Regions from separate parts of the Homo sapiens genome. Here region 2 is linked to region 1. The links come from fine-mapping of genetic effects on gene expression. Tissue or cell type: whole blood. Region 1 holds a variant in brackets; the other region holds the start of a gene. All regions are shown on one strand. Distances are between the middles of the regions.

The links. PIP is the estimated chance that this variant, and not a neighbour inherited with it, causes the effect.
Region 2: ZNNT1 starts here. The variant in region 1 is fine-mapped to the expression of ZNNT1 in whole blood (TOPMed, PIP above 0.99).

What each region holds. Positions count from the first base shown.
Region 1 is chr8:101,195,138-101,203,321 of GRCh38, forward strand. ZNF706 (zinc finger protein 706) reads right to left here. Exons shown (of 4, transcript NM_016096.5): 2 at 6,470-6,606; 3 at 4,853-4,960; 4 at 1,915-4,102. The coding sequence starts at 6,604. The coding sequence ends at 4,865. Among named protein-coding and RNA genes, the nearest start is that of ZNF706, 6.4 kb to the right of the region's middle. The variant T/C (reference allele first, on the strand shown) is at 3,948.
Region 2 is chr8:101,167,044-101,175,227 of GRCh38, forward strand. It overlaps ZNNT1 (ZNF706 neighboring transcript 1), which reads right to left and starts at 3,196. Exons shown (of 1, transcript NR_164368.1): 1 at 1-3,196. RefSeq lists an enhancer at 238-437.

The DNA.
Region 1 (8,184 bases):
TACTTTTGCTCAATCAGCCACCCACACCTTGATTTCCCTATTCCTTCCTACTCCTCCCTCAGCTGACTCCCCATACTTCCAGGCACAGACTGCCCTCTTCAACCCAAAGCCATCCTATATACACATAAACGCACACATGTACATATACCTCATTAAGTTATTGTCTATAAAACACACCAAGCACTTGGCCATATAGCCTAAAATTATGTAAATAAATATATGTATTATCTCCAGAATGCATCTGAATTTCCAAAGATTAGGGAACTTTGCTATATTTCTTTGTATAATACATTGCTTTTATATAATACTTTACAGCTCACAATGCAACTTCACATATATGATTTTCAATAAATACCTTAGTGACTTAAACTTCTCAAAGAGTTCATCCTAGAAAGATCTGGGATAAAGATATTCTTCCTCCCTACAACCCTCAAATAATATTAGTTAATGACAGAATTAACAATTACTTCATACTGAAGATATTCCCATGTGAATATAAAGAAATGACCAAAGTCTGTCTCCGAATGTGCAGATTTTAAATTTGGAGCCATACGGTATTCAAAGAATAGAAGCTAAAAAATGGCTATTCAAAAAAAAAAAAAAGAAGGATACCTCAGTAAAAAAAACTTATCAAAACAACATTTAAAATAAAAAATATTTTCAATTTAACATGGCAATCTACAATTAAAAATGACAGGTTGAACTTTTATTTAAAAAAGTCTATTTTCTTTGTTAAGTAGACAGATGTTTTCATTAAACCTACAAACTGAAGGCTCTTAAGATTTTTCTGAAACTTTTACAATAAATAAAATTAAGGTAGCCTAAACTATTTCAGAATGTGAAGTCACAGTAAACACAACTCCCTGGTGTTGATCTTCATTGCCATATACTGTTAAAAAGTACATGACCAAAAAAGTACTCTGACCAAAACTAAACCAAACACTTTCCAAAAAACCAGAAATCTAGTACAAATGAATTAATTCAGACTGGGTGGTTTAAATATAGTATTTCAGTTATAGTTTGGACTGTGTTTGATCACTGTGTTATAGAAAAAGGCCTTTATCCACATTTAAAAATAGGTACAGTATATTATATATATATATATATGGAGAGAGAGAGAGAGAGAGAGAGAGAGAGAGAGTGAGTCTCGCTCTGTTGCCCAGGCTGAAGTGCAATGGTAAGATCTTGGCTCACTGTAACCTCCGCCTCCCGGGTTCAAGCCATTCTCCTGCCTGAGCTTCCTGAGTAGCTGGGATTATAAGCATGTGCTACTAGGCCCCGCTAATTTTTGTATTTTTAGTAGAGATGGGGTCTTGCCATGTTGGCCAGGCTGGTCTCGAACTCCTGACCTCAAGTGATCCATCCACCTCAGCCTCCCAAAGTGCTGCGATTACAGGCGTGAGCCACTGCACCTGGCCACATTACATATATTAATGAAAATTAAAAACATGGGTTTTCCTAGGTAAAATAGTAATGTTGATAAATTCTATCTTATGCTGCATCTCAGGTTTGAATTATGATGTCATTAATTACCTATATAGTATCTTTAATATAAAACTAAAACTTCAAATCTTACAATATCATCAAGGACTTACCCATCCAATTCAATTAACTGACCTAAGTATTTTTCATAATTGTATTTTTATGTTAATAGCCAATCACTTCCCCCTTTCCAACAATTCACACTTATTCTATACAGTAAGGTTTCAAAATGACAAGTTTTTTTCCACCCAAGTATTCTACAGACCTCAAAAAGGGAAAGACTGCAGGGAAAACGAGAAATGAAAGAAATCTCTTGCTACCCTCAAATCTACCAACCTATACTTAAGAGCCAATTCTAAGCTCAGAAAGGAGAAAAAAAAAAGTGGGAATATAAAAACCTCTTAAAATGTAGAAGAAATTAGACTAGTTTAGTTTTCTTTAATATCTTCTTTAATAAGACATTACAGCACACAACTGAGCCCCCAGTGTGTCAGTTAAACATGGGGATGAATATCCATGTGAAGAGAATGGAAACAAGTTTAATCTTAACCCCATTCCTTTTGGCAAGTAATAGAAATACAGCATACAAATGGACCAATTCTCTCTCAGTGTTATTTTATCAAGTCTTTGAAGACACCATAACAGTTTTATAATGAACTTTGCTGCAATCTGTTAAAGAATCTTCAAATTAAATTACAGGGATGTTTGGTTTTTAACTCAAACACAGTAAAATGGGGATTGTACTAATAATCCCCTCATGAAGTATAAGGATGATTATGCTCATGTAAGATCAATGCAGCTATTTCCCTATCACTGAGATATAGTGTTAAATATGGTGTCTTCAGCTGCTTATAAAAAAGGGTTAAATACAAGAACAAAAAAACTTTCATCCTGAATTAGTCACTAAAACAAACGAAAAAAAAAAAACCAAAACTTGTGAATGGTTTTATATGATTTGTCACTAAACATATACATATGCTCAAAGCACTTTTAAAAACTTTTAAGTTGTGATTTAACCAGAACTTCTGCAATATCCACAAGAAATTAGGTAAAATTCTAACGTTCTGGTAATCGACATGTTAGGAAACAACAGATATTACATCTGAAACTTAGGAAATAAAATACACAAAATAAAAGGACTATTTTAAAGTAAGGGCATAAGAATAGGAATTGCTAAGAAACTATCAGCCCTGAAGCTTTTCCTTGGAAACGTCTTAAACTTACAGGGAAGACAAGGTGGGCAAAATATGCAGAGCTACAAAACAAAGCAATGATAAGCTACAGCAGAAGAGGGAATGCATTCTGTAATCCACAGGATCAGATAAATGGCTCTAAGCAGTTACCAGTAAGTATTTTAGTGTTCTTTCTATTATATTAATTTAAAAATTTAAACCGAGTTAACAGCAGTTTTACAAGTTAAGAGTTGACACAAGCAAATTAGAAGAACTCTAAAATTAGCCTTCCTTAATTGGGTAAGATTTACCATATCCATCTGAACAAACCCATTTTCCCATCCTGAGATCTAAAAGAATGTGAATATTGACCCATTTTAATACTTTTCAAGTTCAGATGGAAGTCATACTGTACACCAGTCTCTGATTTTAGGTAACAGCACAAAGCAAACTCCTAAAATCAACAACTCACTTAGAAAAGAAAGGAGGGAGAGGGTTCTGGGAATTAATCCAGCCACAAGTCATTCCAATCTTCCTGTTAATGCAAAATCCATTTGTAAAAATGGCCAAATAGTAACTTCCAAAAACCTCAAAAATTAATGTTTCAATTTCAAATTAAAGAACTTCAAGAATTTTCAAAGAATATAGTATCAAGATCGACCTTTACCAGTTCACATTTGTTCCATATTTTGCATTAAACAATAGGCTTAATGATTATTTCATTACGGCATATACATTAGAACCTAACCTTTCACAAGGGCTCACTGACAATCCAACCGCTTTTAGGAAGCTATCAGTTATCTACAGGGTACACCTGACTGGCAGTTAGAGCCAGGTCATACTGCAATTTTAAATATTCCAACTCAAACACAGGAAATGATCAGAGGGGTACAATGACACATAACCGCAATATACTAAGGCAGCAGATAAGTCATTTTTCACCTAGATCATCAGCTGCCCATAAAATCGTATGCACAATTTTAATGAATCAGTCTGCTCTAGTTTAACTGAGGAACCTGCCACTGAGCAGAGAAAGGGATATAAGAATTGCACTTGCAATTCTAGCTGATGAATTCATTAGATTTTTATAAGGCAAATAATGTGGAAAGTTAGAACAGAATTTCTAAAACCATTTATCCTGTGATGTCGTAAATCAAAGTACTATTTTATTAAATGAGTTATTTTACACAATATGAACATCAATATAATTACAATTGTAAAAAAATTTTTTATAACAAGGATGGACTGATTTTCATATTTCCAAATCAGAGTCAACTGTACATTTACACAGAA[T/C]TGTCTTTGCATGAAGCCCAAGAGGGAACAGCATAAAAATGAGTGTTTCTGTAGCCCCTTTATTTTTGCTGATCAACAGTTTGTTAGAAAAGCAGCTGCAGGTATGTTACCTAAGGTCTGAGACAGTAGAAGAGTCAAAGGTGTCATGAATTCACCTATAAAACATAAGCAAAATTTTCAATGAATGTTACCATTGCACAAATGCAACTTACATGCATTTCAAATAACTAAGAAGAAACACTATGAAGATAATATCTGGTAAACTTGTCAACTCGACTTTATATACAGAACTCTGAAGAATTTATTTTAAAAAGAAAGAATTCTGAAACACACAACACACCCACCACCAACTCCACTATTTAGGGGGAAAAAATCCAACCAAATGTAATGTGTAAAGTGATAACTTTCAACCAACAAATTTATAAACAAATTTATATAGCACATATCTACATCTACATTTTGCCCTATATTTTAATACTCAGAAGCTTTGCTAAGGGGATAGGTTGGGGGAGAAAAAAAAGAACCTCTGCTAAGTACTATAAGTAAACTAATTGTAAAGAGGTGCTCAGGAACATTGGTGTACATTGTTTTTAGAGGGAAACTCTCAAATAACTTTGTAATCACTATTTTCTTTAAACTGATAAGTTCCTTCCATTCTTTGATCAGAGATGGCTAGCATGTACTCATCTCCCCATTTTTGGCTACAGTAGTAAAAATTTGGATGTTTCAAAGGCATTGAAAGGAAATAGTCTGAGAAAAAGGGACTTTTCAGTTACACATTAACTTAAAAAGGGGAAGCAATAAAATCTCAGAAGGCAGAAATTAATTTCACAATAAGTGAAGACAGTTTTGGTCTTGTATACAACCCTGTTATTAACAAACCAATAGAAAAAGAGGTGAGTTACCTGTAAACAACCTTATGCCTGAACATCAGCTAATTCTGGAGGAAGTGGAGTCTTAGGATGCTTGCTCTCAAAGTGCTGCTTGAAGGTCTTAGGGTCTGGCATTTGTGTCTAACAAAAAATTGTGCAAAAGAGAGCTAGACTTTATTTATAAAATAAAAATGTGTTACTTTTTAGAATCCTGAACCTTCTCAGTATAGACAATTATCCCAAAAACACCTTTAAATTCCTACAACTTAGTGACTGGCATATGAAGAGGGACTTTGTGGTAAAGAAATTCCTAACGTTCCCACATTTCACCTATAAAGAAAGGTAGGTCACATAGAATGTATTCTGCTTATCTGATTAACAGCAAACAATAGGTAACATTTACTGAACCCTTATTATATTAAGCATGTTACCTTAATTCCCACAGAACCTTCAAAGTAATCTTTAGCTCCTACTAGCATCATTTTACCTGATAAGGAAACTAAAACCCAGAGTTTAATTTGCCCAAGACCTTATTTTAACTTAGTACTAGATATGTGACCTCTCAAATACTATACTATACTGACTTCCCTTGGCAAGAACCTTCAATTATTTATTCTTAACCCATTAAATTACACAAAATATGAAATAAAAGTCTGTGGTTTTGAGTTTTTAAATATATGTAACTACTCTACCACATTTAGATTAAGGTATTTCTTCATTACTAGTTGATTAAAATTTGCACCCTGCCTCTTTCCAAACAATCACAAGCTGCTCAATTTCATTATTTTGAGTGTATATGTAGTGTACTAACTCCACTATGGTTTCCTTTGGTACTGCCACTCACTAACTTCAAGGGTAATGAGCTTAAACAAACAGGCAAGAGGCTCTGATTTGGAATTTCAGAAGTACTTCTTTGAGAGGCAGTACAGTAGTGGTCCAGAGGGTGGACTCTGGAGCTGAACTGCCTGAGTTCAGATTCCAGCTCTTCTACTAACCAGCTGGGAGACCCCACACAAATTGTTTAATTTCCATTAGTCAGTTTACTCTTCTGTAAAATGAGAACAATAAAAGTACTTTATCTTATAGGGTTGTTATGTGGATTAAATAGGTGAATACATGTAAAACACCTGGCTCTATGTGTGGCATATGGTAAGCACTCAAAAGTAGCTGTTATTATTACAGTTCTTCAAATCTAATACAACACATTAATTCTAGGAAAAGCTCTCAACGTGATTATACTCTATATGGTTTTACAGACATCCTAATTATAAATTTAGTGAAGAAAAAACCAATTATATAACTAGAGGTATACTTACTAGCATATTATATAGCTCTAAGAGTGTAGAGTTATATGATGTGCTAGTGAAGTGTATTATATGCCCTTATGAAGACATCTTTATTTTATATGAGGAAAGCAATTTTGTTTTGTTCACTCTGTTTTCCCAGCACCTAGAGATTTTTGCCTGGCCACAGGAGCCATTCAAAAAATATTTGTTTAAAGGGTGAATGAAAATAGATACCTAAAATAATCAGCTCTCAAACCTACTATTTCATGTAAAGCATCTATTTTGCCATGGTTTCAAAATTTTAATCTATTCAAGCCAAAACTGCCCACGGGAGAGCTGTATCTTTCAATTCAATTCCCCTTACCCTACAGACAGTGCAGGTATATATTAAGGCAGCTTTGGCAGCAGCCTTTTGGTCATGTCCTTGTTTCTTCTTTTGTCCAGCTTGCTTTTTGGCATTTTTCTGCTGAGACTGAATTTTCTGCTGTCCACGAGCCATATCTAAAAACAGAAGGTGAAGCATTAGAGTGGCTTATTTACTCTAATACAGAGTAATCAAAGCATAAGAACGTTCTTAGAATTGAAGCCTTAAGTTTTATAGAAATATCTGGCAAATAAAAATTTATAGGTATTAAAATTCCCACATATAAATGCTACAAAAGTATCAATTGACACAACCCTGTGGAAAACTAGTTGGTAGCTGTTTATTCTATGAGCCAGCAATTCCACTCTTGGTATATACCCAATAGAAATGCAAATGTTATGTACACCAAGACATGTACAAAATGTTCTGAGTGCCCATTCCAAAACTGGAAAAAATCTGAATGCCCATCAATAGTAACACGGATGCACAACTTGTATACATATTTTTATAGTATTTATACAACGGAATACTACCCAGCATTTAAAAAATTGTGGCCAGGCGCGGTGGCTCACGCCTGTAATCCCAGCACTTTGGAAAGCCAAGGCGGGTGGATCATGAGGTCAGGAGTTCAAGACCAGCCTGGCCAAGATGGTGAAACCCTGTCTCTACTAAAAATACAAAAAAAAAAAAAAAAAAAAAAAATTAGGCAGGCATGGTGGTAGGCACCTGTAATTCCAGCTACTTGGGAGGCTGAGGTGGAGAATTGCTTGAATCCGGGAGGCAGAGGTTGCAGTGACGCGTGATGGCACCACTGCACTGCAGCCTGGGCGACAGTGAGACTCTGGTCTCAAAAATAAATAAACAAACACACAAACAAAAAATTGTTACAAGTAACAACTTGGTTGTATCTCAATGTTAAAGGAAAGAAGCCAGTTGTGGGGAATATACATTATTTAAAGTTCAAAACAGGCAAAGCTAATCTATAGTGAAAGGGGTCACCTTGGGGGTTATGGGTAATGACTGGGAAGACAGGACATGAAGGGGACTTATGGGGTCCTGAAAATGTTCTTGAATCAAGTGTGTTTACTTATAAAAATTCATTGAATTGTACACTCAAGATTTATGCACTTTACTGTATGTAATCTTCACAAGTTTACTAAAAAAGTTTAGCCCCCGCTATCATTTACTTGATCACTCTGCAAAAGTAATTTCCCTTCCCAGTATTCATTGTGACTTGCGATTGTGATTTTTATAACTTTAAGAGAAATAAAAGCTGTCTGTTACTCCTTCTAAAGGAGACCTCAGAAATAGGTGGAAACTGTTTTCTTACTTAGTTTTCATAAAACTACTGTTATTAATTTTTTTAAAAAGTTGGTCTTGCTGGATTGCTGAACAAATTATAAAATGAGATTATCAGCAAGCCACTAATTCCAGAAGTTTCTTTGCTCTCTAGACGTTAGTTCCCATTTGAGGGAATGAACTTGGTTAAGAGGGTTCTTTTACAAAGCTGAAAGATACCACTTTTTGTTACCGATGATCTGACGTGAACCCAAATGGATTAAAACAAAAAAAAAAATCAAGTCACTGAAAAAAGTTACTTTTACTTTTCCATTTAAATTAAAGGCTTTTATTCGACCACACAAGTTAAACCTGCTCATAAAGTCTATCATGAGTCTCAATTGCTTTTTAAATATATCAAAATTGGATCCTAAGTA
Region 2 (8,184 bases), 28 kb before region 1:
GAGCACAGCCTATTGTGATGCTTATTATTTTACACAGAAAGAAGAAGAACTGGGTTCCATTTCCTGGGCTTGGGAAAATGCAGCAAACCCTGACCAATGCAAAGAAGGGCTTCCTGGGTCTGCCTCTTAGTCTCTGAGCTAACAGTGCTCCCCAGCTGCCTTCTGACAGACGCATATACCAGCTGACACATCCGGGAGCACACAGCTCACCTGTGTGTGCACAGGGCAGAGCCAAGCCGGGTTTATTCTCATCACGTTGTCGCTCCCACAGCCGCTCCTTCCAGTTCATTCTCACTGCTTCCATCGGGGCTACTGTGGTAGTCTGCCTGTCTTCGGGGCCTCCACCCCCACCCCACCTACAACCACACCGCCATTGAGGCTTAAAGGCTGACCTTTACCATCCACCCTTGAGGTGTACATTCTTACCATTTTTCTTGATCATTTTCAGAAGCGGAGGACACTCTCAAGTCCGCCCATTCCTTCTTGAAGGGTTCTAAGTTTTTCTATTAAACCCAAATCTGTGTTTCTCATAACATCCTCTCGGCTGAGATATAACTAATTAATCAGCTCCCTCTTCTAGAGCGTTTTCCTCACATAGAATTCTTTCTCTTTGTGGCAGACTGGTAATTCTCCTCCACATTGTCTGTTTCACCCTTCTTCAAAAGCAACAGTTTTAGCTGGGTTTGGGGTTACCTAGCATAAGACCATATTTCCTAGAGTTCTTTCTGCTGGGTGTGGCCATGTGACTAAGCTCAGGCCGATGTTATAGGAATAGAAGACATGTAAGCAACTTCCTGGTGATGTTTTTTTGTTTTGTTTTTTAAAGAGATGGGGTCTCACTATGTTGCCCAGGCTGGAGTGAGGTGGTGTGATCATGGCTCACTGTATCCTCCAACTCCTGTGCTCAAGTGATCCTTCCACCTCAGCCTCCTGAGTAGCTGGGACTATAGGTGCACACCACCACACATGGTTAATTTTTAAATTTTTTGTAGAGACAAGGTCTTGCTTTCTTATCCAAGCTGGTCTCAAACTCCTGGCTTCAAGCTATCCTCCAGCCTCGACCTCCCAAAGTGCTTGGATTACAGATGTGAGTCACTGCACCTGGCCTGGCTATGTCCTTAAAATGACTGGGTGGTACGTCTAGTTCTCTTTCTCCCGTTTTTCTGCCTGGGAGATGATGAGAACTGGAGCGGTCATCCTGAGCTTACAAGGGGAAGCCTTGTGTTGAGGAGGGCTGATTAACTGGACTTGGACCACCTGCCTACCTCGACCGTTGTGAGAAAAATTAACTGCATTGTGGTAAATCCTTTGCATTTTGGACTCTTTCTTACAGCAGCTTAGCCTGTACCTCACCTCCACTTATGAGCCTACTCATTCTGCAAATATTTCACCAGCCTAGAAAGAGCTTCTCCATCCTCTGAATCCAAAGCCCTTTGACCTGCCTCTTGTGTTTGGCCTCACTATTTACCTGGTACTACATTTGTCTGTGCATGAATCTTACCTGCTCTTTGCAGGCCAAAGAGGACAGGGGTAAAAGCTTAATCGCTTTCTATTACACAATGCCTAGCATATTGCCTTGGACAATGATTGGTTCCCAATAAATGTGTTGAATGAAGAAAGATGATTCTTCATTGTCTGTATACATGAATGAATTATAACAAAATTAGAAGCTAGTGATATTTGATTAAATAACCATATCTAAAAACTACTAGATAAGAGATTACTGTCAAGCTAGAGAATGAGGTGCCAAGTTGGCAAGCTACTGGTTTTTCTCCTGTTCAACATTTGTATCAACAACTTCAATGAACGATAGTCAATATACCCATTGTGCCTGTGGATAACACAACGGGAAGCCAAAAAAAAAAAAAAAAAACTAGATAAGAGAGTCAAAAATCAAAAAGATCTGTACAGACAAGAATAATGGATGAAAATTAAACATTAACAGAAAAGTTCTGAATATCAGTTCAAAAGTAGGCAAAGGGAAATAATGGAAGAGAAGTAGTTTAATTAAAGACTATGAAAAAGGCTTAAGGATTTTATTTGATTGGAAGTCTGGTATCAGTTAAGAATACAATGTGTTGGCCAAAAAATCCTAGTGCAATTCCAGGCTGAATACATTCATTCAGCAATGATTTATTGGGTGTCTACTAAGTGCTTGGTGTTGTGTGGAAAACAAGGATGAAGGTGTGGCCCCTGCTTTCGAGCAGCTTACAAAAGTGACATGTGTTCCTCCTAGACCACAAAGTAGAAAGCATTTGGTGCTGCAAAGTAAAAGAGACAGGAAAGGTCGGCACATGTATGATGAAGGGGAAGAGTGGGCTTGTGGAGAAGCACAAGGAATGATAAGGTAGGGAAGATATTTCAGTGCCAGTCTGTAGTAGGTCCTTAGTGCCAGGCCAAGAAGATTGGAAGTTATGTGAGGGGATGAGGAAATGAAAGATTTTGCAGCCAAAAAAAAAAAAAAAAAAGATGGTCAGTGTTTTAGGAAGATTTCTTTGGAAGCAGTCTGTTGGACAAATTGGAGTGGGGAGACACACACACAGAGGCTTATACTTGGCATCATTTCAAAGATTGATGTTCTTGTTCCTCATCTTCATTCTATAAGTGGAGAAAGTGAAGCTGAAGGTTTAAATGATGTCCCTAAAGACACAGAGCTGACAGGGGTATGCAGAAGCAGAATCCAGGATGGTGCTTCTGGGTCCAGTGGGTGATAAACCAATGGCAATTAGACCTTGCACAGTTGTTGGAGTTTAGAAAAACATTTCTGGAGGGACTTAAGGAAACCAGTTAAGAGATCATTTCCACAGGCAAAGTAAAAAATATTGAGCACTGAAAGTGGAAAGAGGGTCAGCTGGGGGAGAAACTGCTCTGATGCTGTGGGTTGAGAGGGAAGGAAGCAAGGCAAAGAGGACTTGGAGACAGAAGGACAGCAGTGGGATGAATGACCATGGGGAATACAAGGATGAAAAAGCAACTTGGAGGAGTACCATTTTGAGTGGGGCCAATTTTTTTTTTCTTTTTGAGACGGAGTTTCGCTCTTGTTGTCCAGGCTAGAGTGCAATGAAGCGATCTTGGCTCACCACAACCTCAGCTTCCCGGGCTCAAGCGATTCTCCTGCCTTAGCCTCCCAAGTAGGTGGGATTACAAGCACGTGCCACCATGTCTGCCTAATTTTGTATTTTTAGTAGAGATGGGGTTTCTTCATGTTGGTCAGGCTGGTCTTGAACTCCCCACCTCAGGTGATCCACCCGCCTCAGCCTCCCAAAGTGCCGGGATTACAGGCGTGAGCCACCGTGCCCAGCAACAGAGATTCTAGTGGGGCCCATTTTAACAGAAGGGGCACTGGAAATGAATGTGTCCAGAAGAAGGTAACTGGAAAGCAAATTGCAGGAATGAGAGAAGGAACTGCTTAGTCTGGGAAAGCCTAAGTTATTTGCAGAATTGAATTGAAAAGATTTCCGGGGAGAACAGATAGCTAGCATCCTACATCTGTAGAGCTTTTACAGAACAATGTTAAGTTGCCTCCTAACGAGCTTTAGCATGGCACCAGTGGAAGGCACTGTTAGATGGCAGCAATGCAGAGTTGTGGAAAGGCCAAGGGGCAGAAGATTTGAGGCAGATCAGCTCCTATCTGTGAAGCAGTATAGTGGGAGGAGCACAGACTTTGGAGTCACACAGACCTGGGTTCTAGTCCCAGCCTACCTCTACCAGCTATGTGACCTTGGGGAAGTTGCTGAACCTCTTTGTGCCTCAGTTTCCATATGTACAAAATAAAGAGGCTAGATTGGAAGACTTCCAAGATCTTGTCTAGCTATAAAATTCCTTGGTTCTAAAAAGGTGGCTTATGTGCATAAAATAAATAGATGGAAATACAGTATTATCTTCTTTGGATTTTGCTCTCAAATCTGTACTAATATTGGTTATCAAGTATGCACAGCCAGCCTGCTTCTGTTGCACTGCATGATGGCATGTAATGATGGAACAGAGCTGACATGTTCACAAAAGCACTTTTCTCTGTGGGTAGGAGTGGAAAATAGTTCCATTTAGCTGATATCACTAATTTTTAAAGAAAACCATATGAGCTAAAGAGAACTGAAGATGAATGTGGGAGCTATGAGTCAACCACTGAATCTCAGCTGCATTAATTTTACATTATAAATGACACAGTTTTAAAGTTTCTTAGATTTTATAATAGTTGAAATTTTTCTTTAAAAGAGTACACCCTATACATGCCGATACACGTTAAAAAGATTGAACATTTCTTCCCATTCTAAAGCATCTTGAAAACAATGACTGTGCTGTTAGCGATTTTTAATATAAAATACATTTCCTAGCAGTGTTATAAACCGCTAACAGCACTTTTTGTGAAAATTGGCTACTTCATACAAAAAAAACCTCACAGTTTTTGTTATCTTTGTAGGATTTTCTTCCCCCTTTTTGAATTGTTTTATAATGGATAATGTTGCTTAAAAACATCCAGCATTTCCATGAGAAATGAAATATTCAGAAGACTTCTGGATAAGTGATATTTATACATAGTTCCTTTAATCTTAAATACCTAACTCTTAAATAGCATATAAGAGAAATTGTTTTCCTTTACCGTCGTAGATTAAAAGTGGCATCACAAATTTTCAGGTAGGAAACTAAAATATAAGACCTAGAGATTATATAAGAAAGATCCACACTGGCCATCCTTACCTCAAAGCAAACTAAGACCCAGAGGCAGAGAAGAATTTCAAAGCCTGACTTAGAGGATTGTGGAAAATAATTATATCAAATCAAAGTTTAGGACAATCTTGGACCATGGAAAGAAGAAAAGAACATTTAGCACATTGTTAAAAATAGATACTCATTCTCTTTTAACCATAGACAGTTCTTTAACATCTTACATTAGCAACACAGACAGACTGGATCCAGTTTCAGTTCATTCTGTCACTTAACCATTCCACGACTCAATTTTTTCATCACCAAAATGGGGGCGATATTATTTCCTAGCAGGCTAAGTGTGCAGCTGACATGTGACGATGTGTGTGCAGTCCTTTGTAAATTATACAGCACTTCAAACACAGAGGTCTGCTGTTATGGGTCAAGACTGTCAGGAGAGCTCATGGTTAATGCGAATGACCCGGAAACGACTCGTAGCTGTTTAACACACATGTTTTTGGTATCAAAACTGCAAGCGGGATTGAGTTTGAAAGAGCATTATTAAGAGAAAACAATCTGCTCTGCAGATTCCAACTGTGATGTGGTGCCTGTTTCTTGGCACAGACCTCCCACTTAAACTAATTAAAGTTCCACACAGGTAGAAAATGAATGCTTGACTTGAGATCTGCCATGTGGACCTAAAAGATGGAATTGTCTATGGCTCTTTTATTTCGGTTAAAAGAAAGCAGCATTTGCTTTGTTTAAAAAAGAAAATGGGGGGAGGGGAATGTATGTGGGTTTGTTTAAATGCTGAAGAAAACTGTTCTAAGCAGCTGGATGAATAAAAGGGAGGAGCACTAAAGAAAGAATGCGCTAAATCTAAAGATACAAGAACAACACCCAGGAATTGATTGAAAATGCTTTGGTGACAAGTGAGGCATGTAATGACAAGAAAGCAGCATGTGTGCATATTGAGGAGTGCATGTGGAAAACAGGTTTCTCCTTTTAATTAGCTTTGCCGCTGGGAGGACCTTCTCTCTCCACTTTCTGTCCAGCTCTTCCATCCCAGAATTCCACTCTGGGTTCTTGTGATGTGCTAACGAGGCTGCAGGGCAGCTCTGATTGAGTGGGCCAATAATACTGGCTCAAGGCCACCTAGAGAAGTGTTCTCCCCAGCCTGACAGATGCCCTTTAAAGAAAAACCTGGAAGAGCACCAGCCTTTTTGATGGTGGCTTAGATACTTGAAGCCCGATGTCATTCTTTGGGTGAGATAATGATTCTTTCCTGCCTGGCCCACCTATAGCCCCTTCTGAAATTTAAAATTTTTCAGGAATATGTTGGAAAGTCTACTAGTTTTTCTCCAATGTCTGCCCTCCTTCTTTATTGATAGAATCTCAGTTTTTACTGATTGTACAAAATAAAGACATTTCCCAGCCTTCCTTGCAGCTGGAATGTGTGTGTGTGTGTGTGTGTGTGTGTGTGTGTGTATGTAAGGGGAAGTGCTGGGTGCAGCCTCTGGGGTGGGGTTATTCCTATCCTCCTCTTTCCTGCCTGGACCATGCAGATGAGGGCCATCCCCTAGAGATAATGAAGCAATAAGATGGGAGATACCTGGCAGTCCTTGACACCATGGACCCGCCATACTAGTCTTTGGCTGCAAACTCTCACGCTGTCATGGAAGATAAATAAACCTCAATACTGCTTAAGCCATTGAAACTTTAGGTCTCTGTTGCACACAGATGAACCCATAGTCCAACAAATGTATCTTCTTGACTAAATCTTACCTTCTTACTCTGATGATTTATATTCAGAGAATAAATTTAACTTTGTCTATATCTGGGGTAAAAAAGAACAGCTCTTCAATAAATCTGCTTCTCTCCAAAAATATTCCAGAAAATTCATGTGATTGGAAAACTGGGCTACTTAGTAGAAGTAAAAAAAAAATTTTTTTTTTCAGGGGATTCTTTGGGAAGCAAAGATCTCCAAAATTCAGTCTCCGTTATGTCTGCAGAATGCACTTAGTACATGTTTGGTCAATTCAACGTTCGTTGGTGAAATTGGCCAGCAAAGCTTGCAGAAACAGAGAATGTGAATGCACAGTGCATGACGGTGGGCTGAGCTTTGGACATCAACAGGGGAATAAAAATCAGTTCAGCTCTTGCTAAAATAGTTTTCCATTGTCTGAATCAGAACTGAGCACAAATGAGTCACCAAAGTTAAAGCTGAAAAACAACTAAGTTGGACTAAGAGTCCAATAAGCCAAAGCCAAGTCTGTTATATATTATTTTATGGAATTATGGGGATAAAGAGGCTTTAGAAAAGAGTAATGTGGAAGAATCTATGTTGGGCTTGTGTGTATATCTCAAGAAGTTTTCAAAAGTTCATGGAAAATATATATTATGAGAAAACTATGCATGTATTCAAATTTTTTTTTTTTTTTTGCCAGATAAACTCATACTAACTTTTTATAACATGTCTGAACAGAATCTAGTGTGAGGCTCCCAGAAGGGTAAGACATCAGCTTGAAAACAGCCCCTGTGAGAGGAACATGAATTTTGCTAAAATTGAAGCAAGAACAAATGTGTCAAGTTTACGGTGACACTTGAGTGAAAGAATGGTGAAACCACTGATGCTTTATGAAAACTTTAGGAGTATAATGTCCCAAAGAAATCAGCAATTTACAAATGGGTAACTCGTTTTAAGAAGGGATGAGATGATGTTGAAGATGAAGCCCATAGTGGCAAGCCATCCACATCAATTTGTGAGGAAAAAATTCATCTTTTTCATGCCCTAGTTAAAGAGGACTGATAATTAACAGCAGAAACAATAGTCAACACCACAGACAACTCAATTGATTCAGCTTACACAATTCTGACTGAAAAAATCAAAGTTGAGCAAACTTTCCCACAATGTATGCCAAAACCATTGCTTCTAGATCATCTGCAGACAAAAGCAGAGCTTTCAATGAAAATTGGAAACAAGTAACATCAAGATCCTGAAGCATTTCTTTGAAGTAACAAGAGATGAAATATGGCTTTACCAGTACAATCCTGAAGACAAAGCACAATCAAAGCAATGGCTACCAAGAGGTGTTAAGTGCTCCAGTCAAAGCAAAAGTATACTAGTCAAGAGCTAAGGTCATGGCAACAGTTTTTTGGGATGGTCAAGGCATTTTGCTTGTTGATTTTCCGTAGGGCCAACGAATGATAACATCTGCTTATTATGAGAGTGTTTTGAAAACATTAGCCAAAGACTTAGCAGAAAAACACCCAGGAAACCTTCACCTGAGAATCCTCCTCCACCATGACAATGCTCCTGTTCATTCCTCTCATCAAACAAGAGCAATTTTATGAGAGTTTTCATGTTAGGCATCCACCTTACAGTCCTGATTTGGCACCTTCTGACTTCTTTTTATTTCTTATCTTAACAAATCTTTACAGGGCACCCATTTTTCTTCAGTAATAATGCAAAAAAAAAAAAAAAAGAAAGAAAAAGAAAGAAATGGTTGCACTGACATTGTTAAATTCCCAGGTCCCTCA